Regions from separate parts of the Homo sapiens genome. Here all the other regions are linked to region 1. Evidence: fine-mapped expression QTL. A gene starts in region 1. Each other region holds a variant in brackets. All regions are shown on one strand. Distances are between the middles of the regions. Region 1 holds the start of SNHG15 (small nucleolar RNA host gene 15). Region 2 overlaps MYO1G (myosin IG). Region 3 overlaps CCM2 (CCM2 scaffold protein).

Region 1 (2,676 bases):
AACCACTTAACTTGTTTGGGTGGGGCTTAGTTTCCACGTTAGTAATCTGGAAGTAACAGTTCTGCCTTATCTGTCTGTTAGGGTTTTGACACTTAGTGAAGTATGGGATTTGTATACTGTAAAGTGATTGAATGTATTTACTAGGTGCAATACATAAAATACGAGTTTCAAGCACTGCTCTGCTTTTACTTATAGAACCACGTTCTCACTTTTCTAGCCTGATCATTCAAGACCCTTGAACACATCGTCCTTATCTCCCGCTCCTCATTGAGACCCTTCCAGAACACTACAAACTTGTAATACTTAGCTGTATCACCAGCAAACCATGTCCTTCCCAATTTCAGGACCTTTCAATGTGCTTTCCTCTGCCTGGGGGTGGGTGGGGGGTGGAGAGTAGTTTCCTCCCAACCCATGAAACCTCTCCACAAAGGTAGAAGAGACAGAAAACCATTACTGAATAAGTATTAAACCAGATTGTGATGCCGTACATCACATGCAACCTGCTAAAGGCAACACAAAGACAGAAACTCACTTTTTCTATGCAGCTAAGTAGAGATAGCCCATCACATTATGTAGGTTTTGCAATTTGGAGTCAGGTGCCAAGTTAAGCCTTTGTCCTCCTAAGAAGCTGGACTCTTGGCCCTTTCGTCCCTTAACAATTGCATTTTTTTCTTTCTTTGTTTTTGAGACAGAGTCTCGCTCTGTCTCCAGGCTGGAGTGCAGTGGTGCTATGTCGGCTCACTGCAACCTCCGCCTCCCGGGTTCAAGCGATTCTCCTGCCTCAGCCTCCCGAGTAGCTGGTACTACAGGCACGCTTCACCATGCCCAGCTAATTTTTGTATTTTTAGTAGGGACAGAGTTTCACCATGTTGGCCAGGATGGTCTCGATCTCTTGATCTTGTGATCCGCCCGCCTCAGCCTCCCAAAGTGCTGGGATTGCAGGCGTGAGCCACCGCACCCAGCCAACAATTACACTTCAAGGAGATGGCTCCCAAGAAACATTCCTGAGTTGAACCTGGCCATATAAGAAAAAGACTTGAGTACATTTGGAAAGGAGAGAGGCTGAAATTTTGAAAGAAAAAGGGAGGGGGATGGTTTCTCGTCCCTTCTTTTCCTCAGGGAAAATTAAACCCTATGTATAATTTGTATTTGCCCTTCCACCTGCATCACCTTTCCCACATGCTCCCACAGGCAGGCTCCTGTTCATTCCCAAGGCTCCGTGTCCACATCGTGCTTGGATTCCGCCCGGCCCCGCCTGTGCGGCCGCACCAGGAAGGCACCACCCATTAGGGGCTCAGCGCGTCCCTCCAGGCCACGCCGTCAGGCCTCCGTCCTTTTAGCTGTAGGGGCAGATTACGTAACTCCAGCCTTCTGGTCACTAAAGGAGGGTAACAAAGGGCGGTCGAGAGACTCCACTGAGTTGACACGCAGACGCAGCCTCAGGACCCTAAACTCTACGCCCCAGCACACCCTACCAAGCGAGCGCCCGCGGCCGCGTGACGTCATCTACCCCAAACGCTGTGGCCCCGGCCACGCACGGCTTCGGGGCGGGACTACGCGGTGACGTCGAGGTGCGCGGCGCAGCGCGCGGCGTCAGTCTTGGCTGGCAGACCTGTACTCCGTACTCCGTACTTCGTAGTCGCAGCGGCGCGGTCTTCGGCAGTCTAGTCATCCACCGCCATCCTGGGCCCCACGTGTTGCCTGACCATTCCTGAGCCCAGGTAGGGGTCCTGGGGGATTGGGTTCAGTGGCGGGCGGCGTGGGAGGCTGGGCCGCAGTGAGTGGGGGCACCAGTGATTCTTGGAGACCAAGCCTTCACTACACGTGCTACTTCCTCTCAAGAGGCGGTTGAGCGCGTTCGGAACATTTTACCCGGAGGAGACTCGGGGATTACTTGATGAGTAACCTCGTGCTTCTCTTTCAGCCGAGAAGTGGGGCTTCTGCATGACCTGGGTGGACCCCAGTAGGTGGGATGGGACGTGTGGTCAGGAGGGACCTCACCGGAAGGCATGGGGTGGCGTGTAGACCTGCCGCAAGAGAGGCTGTAGAGTGGGCCAGGCGTTGCAAGGAGCTAGAGCTGGATAATGGTTCAGAGGCACAAGCTGAAGCTAACTGCGTTTGGAGCTAACTGCATTTGTTCCCTTCTAGGTGGGAGCCGTGGCTGAGGTGACGGTCTCAAAGTGGAAGAGCTTACTGTCACAGCAACTCCTTTGCAAGATGCCCCGGTAAATCACGTTGCAGAGACCCCAACTCTGCCTTCCTGGAACTAGGCCTGCGTTTTCTCTGAACCATTATTTCATGGGGAAAATGAAATCTACTTCATGTGCCTGGTCTACTTACTCCTTCAGAAGTGATTTCTGAGCCGTAAGATACATGAGAAAAAAATGAAGGGGAAAAGGCAGTATTTATATTAACTACATGATGATAAGGATGTTTCTGGTCACAGTGAAAAGCCATGCTAGAATTGTAGTGTCATAGAATAATGTGGAAGTTTAGTTCGTGTTGTCTGATCTATTTAATAATTTAATAAGGTTATCTCTTCCAAGACACCTTCCCTTCTTCCTCAGCCAGAAAGGATCTTTCCCTGAGAGTCATTAGTAGCTCTGGGCTCCTGGAACCAAGCTCAGGTGCCTAATTGAACTCTGGTCTCTTCCCACAGCCCCCAGCAGGGACTGG
Region 2 (2,676 bases), 21 kb after region 1:
CCAATGAGGACAAGGTAGCTGGGAAGCTGGATGAGAACCACTGTCGCCACCAGGTCGCATACCTGGGGCTGCTGGAGAATGTGAGGGTCCGCAGGGCTGGCTTCGCTTCCCGCCAGCCCTACTCTCGATTCCTGCTCAGGTACTGGCACCTGACACCCATCACTCCATGGGCCATAGTCCCTGTGTGGAGTCCAAGGGGTAGGAGCAGAGGGTCCCCAAACAGCACGTCGCAAACATCGATACAAGCAGGAACCAGCACGCTGCTGGCCTCAAGACACCAAAATATCTGGGAAGACATGTGTGTGAGCACATGCATGTGGGGACATACAGGTGGGAACATGGGTATGAGGGCTGTGTGAGGACATGTATGTGAGGACATGTGTATGGGAAGACATATGTGCACAGGTGTCATAAGTGCTCCAGGAACACACTCTGTATCCCTGCCATCTCCCCAGGTGTGGGGTGGGCAGGGTGGGCTCCATCATCTCTCCCCCAGGCCTGGGCCACACTGCCCTGTCCTGTGGTGACAGGTACAAGATGACCTGTGAATACACATGGCCCAACCACCTGCTGGGCTCCGACAAGGCAGCCGTGAGCGCTCTCCTGGAGCAGCACGGGCTGCAGGGGGACGTGGCCTTTGGCCACAGCAAGCTGTTCATCCGCTCACCCCGGACACTGGTCACACTGGAGCAGAGCCGAGCCCGCCTCATCCCCATCATTGTGCTGCTATTGCAGAAGGTGAGGTGGGCGGGGCAGGAAGACATCCACTATGGAGGTGGGGAAAGCTTGTGTCCCAGGGGCCACAAACACACTTGTAAGTTTCACAGGAGTCTCTGCTTGATGGAGACAGGCCAGGGAGTGCTCAATAAATGCTCAGGGCCAGGTTTGGGTCTAAGGGTTAGGGCCTGATTGAATTTGACTGCGTATCCCATCCCACCTGGCCCACCCAGGCATGGCGGGGCACCTTGGCGAGGTGGCGCTGCCGGAGGCTGAGGGCTATCTACACCATCATGCGCTGGTTCCGGAGACACAAGGTGCGGGCTCACCTGGCTGAGCTGCAGCGGCGATTCCAGGCTGCAAGGCAGCCGCCACTCTACGGGCGTGACCTTGTGTGGCCGCTGCCCCCTGCTGTGCTGCAGCCCTTCCAGGACACCTGCCACGCACTCTTCTGCAGGTACTACTCTCAGCCCACCACA[C/G]ATTCCATTCAGCTGGCATCCACTGAATACCTTAACCCATCATCCCGGGCCTGCAGTGCCTGGATGGGAGATACACCAGCCCCCTTGATAGGTGGGAAGGTGGATGCTATGCCACATTAGCTGACTGCTCATGTCCCACAGTTGGTGCAGAGCCCTGACCATCTTGGGTACTGTGGTGGGCATTCAAGGTCCAGGGCTGCAGCCTGCAGGGGGAGGCCCATTAGGGCTGGGAAGTAAGGGGATTCTGCATCTGAGCGGGGTCTTGAGGGCTGAGTAGGAGTTCTCCAGAAGGAGGGGCACAGAGCATGCTCAGAACAGGAGGACACTGGGCGACTGCTGGTCCCTGGGTCACCTTCCAGGAACAAGCGTTAGGCACAAGGGGCCAAGGCCAGAGAGGCCGGCAGAGGTTGGGACATGAAAGGCAGGCAGCACCAGGCTGAGGGCTCAGCTTCCTCTGTGGAGAGGGGGCTCAGGGAGCACATGAACACATGGCCAGCATCTGTCTGACTACATGCCCTCTCCCAGGTGGCGGGCCCGGCAGCTGGTGAAGAACATCCCCCCTTCAGACATGCCCCAGATCAAGGCCAAGGTGGCCGCCATGGGGGCCCTGCAAGGGCTTCGTCAGGACTGGGGCTGCCGACGGGCCTGGGCCCGAGACTACCTGTCCTCTGTAAGTGCCAGGCGAGTCCAGGGCTGCCAGGGGGAAGTGGGCTGCCAAAGAGGGCTCTCGGCTAATGCTGTGACCAGGTCCCCTCAGATGTCCTCTCCCAGGCCTGGGGTTGTCTGTCCTGGTGGCCCTGTACCTCAGCCCCCACCAGAGCTCTGCAAGGTCTCATCCTGGGCTTCAGGAGCAGTGGCCTTCGGGGGTGGGTGTGGATGACAGGAGGGCCAGGCTCAGATGCAGCCTAGAAGTCAACACAAGAGGGCTCTGTGCCCTCAGGAAATCCAGGGCTGCTCAGCTCACGCACAAGTCTGTGTGACTCAGTTTCCCGAGATGAAGGATAGCTATGCTGATTCACAGACAGCTGCTATCAATTGAGTCTGGTCCCATGACTCAATCCCAAGCAGCGCCCCCTCCCCTCCATCTGTCCTCAGGCCACTGACAATCCCACAGCATCAAGCCTGTTTGCTCAGCGACTAAAGACACTTCAGGACAAAGATGGCTTCGGGGCTGTGCTCTTTTCAAGCCATGTCCGCAAGGTTAGACAAGGGACAAGGATGGCTTCAGGGCTGTGCTCTTTTTCTAGCCACGTCTGCAAGGTTAGAAGCTGGTGCAGAGTTTTGGGGGGGCACTTGGGAGAAAATGGAGGCAACCCCAGCCCAGGCCCAGCTGCTCCTGACACTCCCAAAACTGTCGCCAGCGGGGAGGGGAGGCAGTAGGGACTGCCGAAGCCTGGGGCCCTGGTGGGTGACAGGGCAGCACCAGCCTGGGTCCAGCCACCTCTCCCACAGGTGAACCGCTTCCACAAGATCCGGAACC
Region 3 (2,676 bases), 75 kb before region 1:
GGAGAAACCCCGTCTCTACTAAAAATACAAAATTAGCTGGACGTGGTGGTGCATGCCTGTAATCTCAGCTACTCAGGAGGCTGAGGCAGGATAATTGCTTGAACCCGGGAGGCGGAGGTTGTGGTGAGCCAAGACTGCGCCATTATACTCCAGCCTGGGCAACAAGAGCAAAACTCCATCTCAAAAAAAAAAAAGAAAGAAAAGAGCTGATTAGGCCACGAGAGCTCTGCCCTTGTGAGCACATTAATGCTGTTATCCTGGGAGAGGGTTTGTTATCTCAGGAGCAGGTTCCTGATGAAAGGATGAATTTGACCCCCTTCCCTCTCCTGCCCTTCCACCTTTCGCCCTGGGATAACATAAGATGCAGATGCAGCCCCTCACCAGCTGTGCCCTTCAACCTTAAACCTCCTAGCCTCCAGAACGATACGATTTTTTTTTTTTTTTTGAGACAGGGTCTCACTCTATCACACAGGCTGGGGTGCAGAGGCGTGATCTTGGCTCACTGCAACCTCTGCCTCCCAGGCTCAAAGCAATTGTCCCACCTTAGCCTCCTGAGTAGCTGGTACTACAGGTGTGTGTCACCACGCCTGGCTAATTTTTGTAGAGACAGGGTTTTGCCATGTAGCCCAGGCTGGTCTCGAACTCTTGGACTTAAGCAATCTGCTCACCGCAGCTTCCCAAAGTGCTGGGATTACAGGTGTGAGGCACCATGCACAGCCTAGAAATATCTATTCATTATAAATTTCCCAGTCTGTGGTATCTGTTATAGCAGCACAAAACATTTAGTAAAAAGGTTTTTTTGGTCACACATGGCCATGAGGCACTTGGCTTAGCAAACCTCCATAATGCAGGGCCTCAGGTGTAGAAGGCTGTGGGCAGCAGCACTGTACCTGCTGTGCTCCTGCCTGCATCTTACCAACCACCATAACATTTTCAATGTTTCTGTTTTTTAAAATGGGTTGCTGATTCTTCCCAAGAACAGGCTTCTTGCACTCAACATTTCTCAGTTGTTCATTACCTCACACAGTTAAGTTCTCTATTAAAAAAGAATGAAATGGGACTTTCCAATTTCCTGTCCAGCTTGTAAAGGCTCAGAAGTCATCACTCCCATCCTCACAACAAGAAAGCTGGCAAACTTAAAATCAATGACTGTTCTCAGATCCATCAGATAATTGAGGTCACATGAAAAAACAATAACCCCAAAGATGGAGAGACAGATATGCAATGCTAAGAATCACAGCTCATTGCGGGGCAGAAACCCTAGAGCCAGCACCAGCAGAGAGGAAAGGGGAACTGACAAATGGCAG[A/C]GACTGAGCATGGACCAGTAGGAGACAAAAACTCCAGGGGAATAGTCACTGGGGAGGTCCCCATACCAGTCTGAGTTTTACCTCCATGAGCCCCACCAGGCTCTCAGGGTGAGACTGGAGAAACATCTCCTCATACTCTGGTAGGAGGAGGGAAGAATACATCATTTAAAAGTATAACCAGGCCAGGTGTGGTGGCTCATGCCCATAATCCCAGGACTTTGGATGGCCAAGGCGGCAGGTTTGCTTGAGGCCAGGAGTTTGAGACCAGCCTGGGAAACATGGTGAGACCCTATCTCTACAACAAGAACAACAACAGCAACAACAACAACAAAATAGTTGGGCACGGCAGTGTGCCTGTGGTGCCAGCTACTCAGGAGGCTGAGATGGGAGGATCATTTGAGCCCAGGAGGTTGAGGCTGCAGTGAGTCATGATGGTGCCACTGCACTCCAGTTTCCCAACCAACATATAAAGGGCTCAGAGGTCATCTCAAAAAAAAAAAAAAAAAAAGAAAGAAAGAAAGAAAAAGGCATGACCAGAGCATTCTGTTATCCTTAACAAAGGGCTTTCCTCAAGGAAAACTATTTTACCAGAGCCTAACCACCTAGGGGTAAGGAAACACCCAATTCCTGCCTCCTCTATCGTTTATGTCTCTCCTAAGGGGGAGGAAAAAAACAAAACTGAGAAGCACATGTGAAGGCCACGGCCCAGGGACACAGGTTCACTAAAACACTGAGACCTAATCCCAGGACTACAGAACACTTCCTCTCCCCTGAAAGCCACATCAACAGGACCCCTGTGTAATAACAGGGATGCACACCTATAAGAACTGCAGGCCTCAGACTCTATTTAAGAAGGAATCTTGAAGAAAACCCAAAAACAATGGAAGACAAAAACAAGGATACACAGGAGATTTTTATCCCCCAGCATCACAAGGGCAGCAAACAGTAAACACAGCCCAACTCCCAGCCAGCCAAACGTACCTCACACTAAGGCCTATTAACCTGACGCCTAAGTTCCTCATATCAGAACCAGACTCAGACATAGTGGAGATTTTGGAACTACCAGATTGGGAATTTAAAACAACTACGATTAATATGGTAATGGCTCTAACGGAAAAAGTAGACATCATGTAAGAACAGATAGGCAGCATAAGCAGAGATGGAAACCCTAAGCAACAATCAGTAGGAAATGCCAGAAAGCAAAAGTCCTGTAACAGCAATGGGGACTGCCTTCAACAAGCTCAAGAGGCTGGACACAGCCAAGGAGAGACTCTCTGAGCTTAAGAATACGTCAACAGAAACTTCCAAACATGAAAAGCAAAGGGAAAAAAGAACGAAAGAAAGAAAACAGAATATGCAAGAACTGTGG

Evidence for each region. PIP is the estimated chance that this variant, and not a neighbour inherited with it, causes the effect. A credible set is the group of variants that fine-mapping cannot tell apart.
Region 2: its variant is the best candidate, but not a certain one, in a credible set for the expression of SNHG15 in whole blood (TOPMed, PIP 0.84).
Region 3: its variant is the best candidate, but not a certain one, in a credible set for the expression of SNHG15 in whole blood (TOPMed, PIP 0.52).

What each region holds. Positions count from the first base shown.
Region 1 is chr7:44,985,570-44,988,245 of GRCh38, reverse strand. It overlaps SNHG15 (small nucleolar RNA host gene 15), which reads left to right and starts at 1,550. Exons shown (of 3, transcript NR_152597.1): 1 at 1,550-1,721. RefSeq lists enhancers at 957-1,704, 1,740-1,859, 1,705-2,451.
Region 2 is chr7:44,964,135-44,966,810 of GRCh38, reverse strand. MYO1G (myosin IG) reads left to right here. Exons shown (of 22, transcript NM_033054.3): 15 at 1-139; 16 at 531-738; 17 at 951-1,174; 18 at 1,722-1,866; 19 at 2,292-2,396; 20 at 2,649-2,676. Among named protein-coding and RNA genes, the nearest start is that of MYO1G, 14 kb to the left of the region's middle. RefSeq lists an enhancer at 654-753. The variant C/G (reference allele first, on the strand shown) is at 1,197.
Region 3 is chr7:45,060,596-45,063,271 of GRCh38, reverse strand. All of the region lies in intron 2 of CCM2 (CCM2 scaffold protein), which reads right to left. Among named protein-coding and RNA genes, the nearest start is that of NACAD, 27 kb to the left of the region's middle. The variant A/C (reference allele first, on the strand shown) is at 1,308.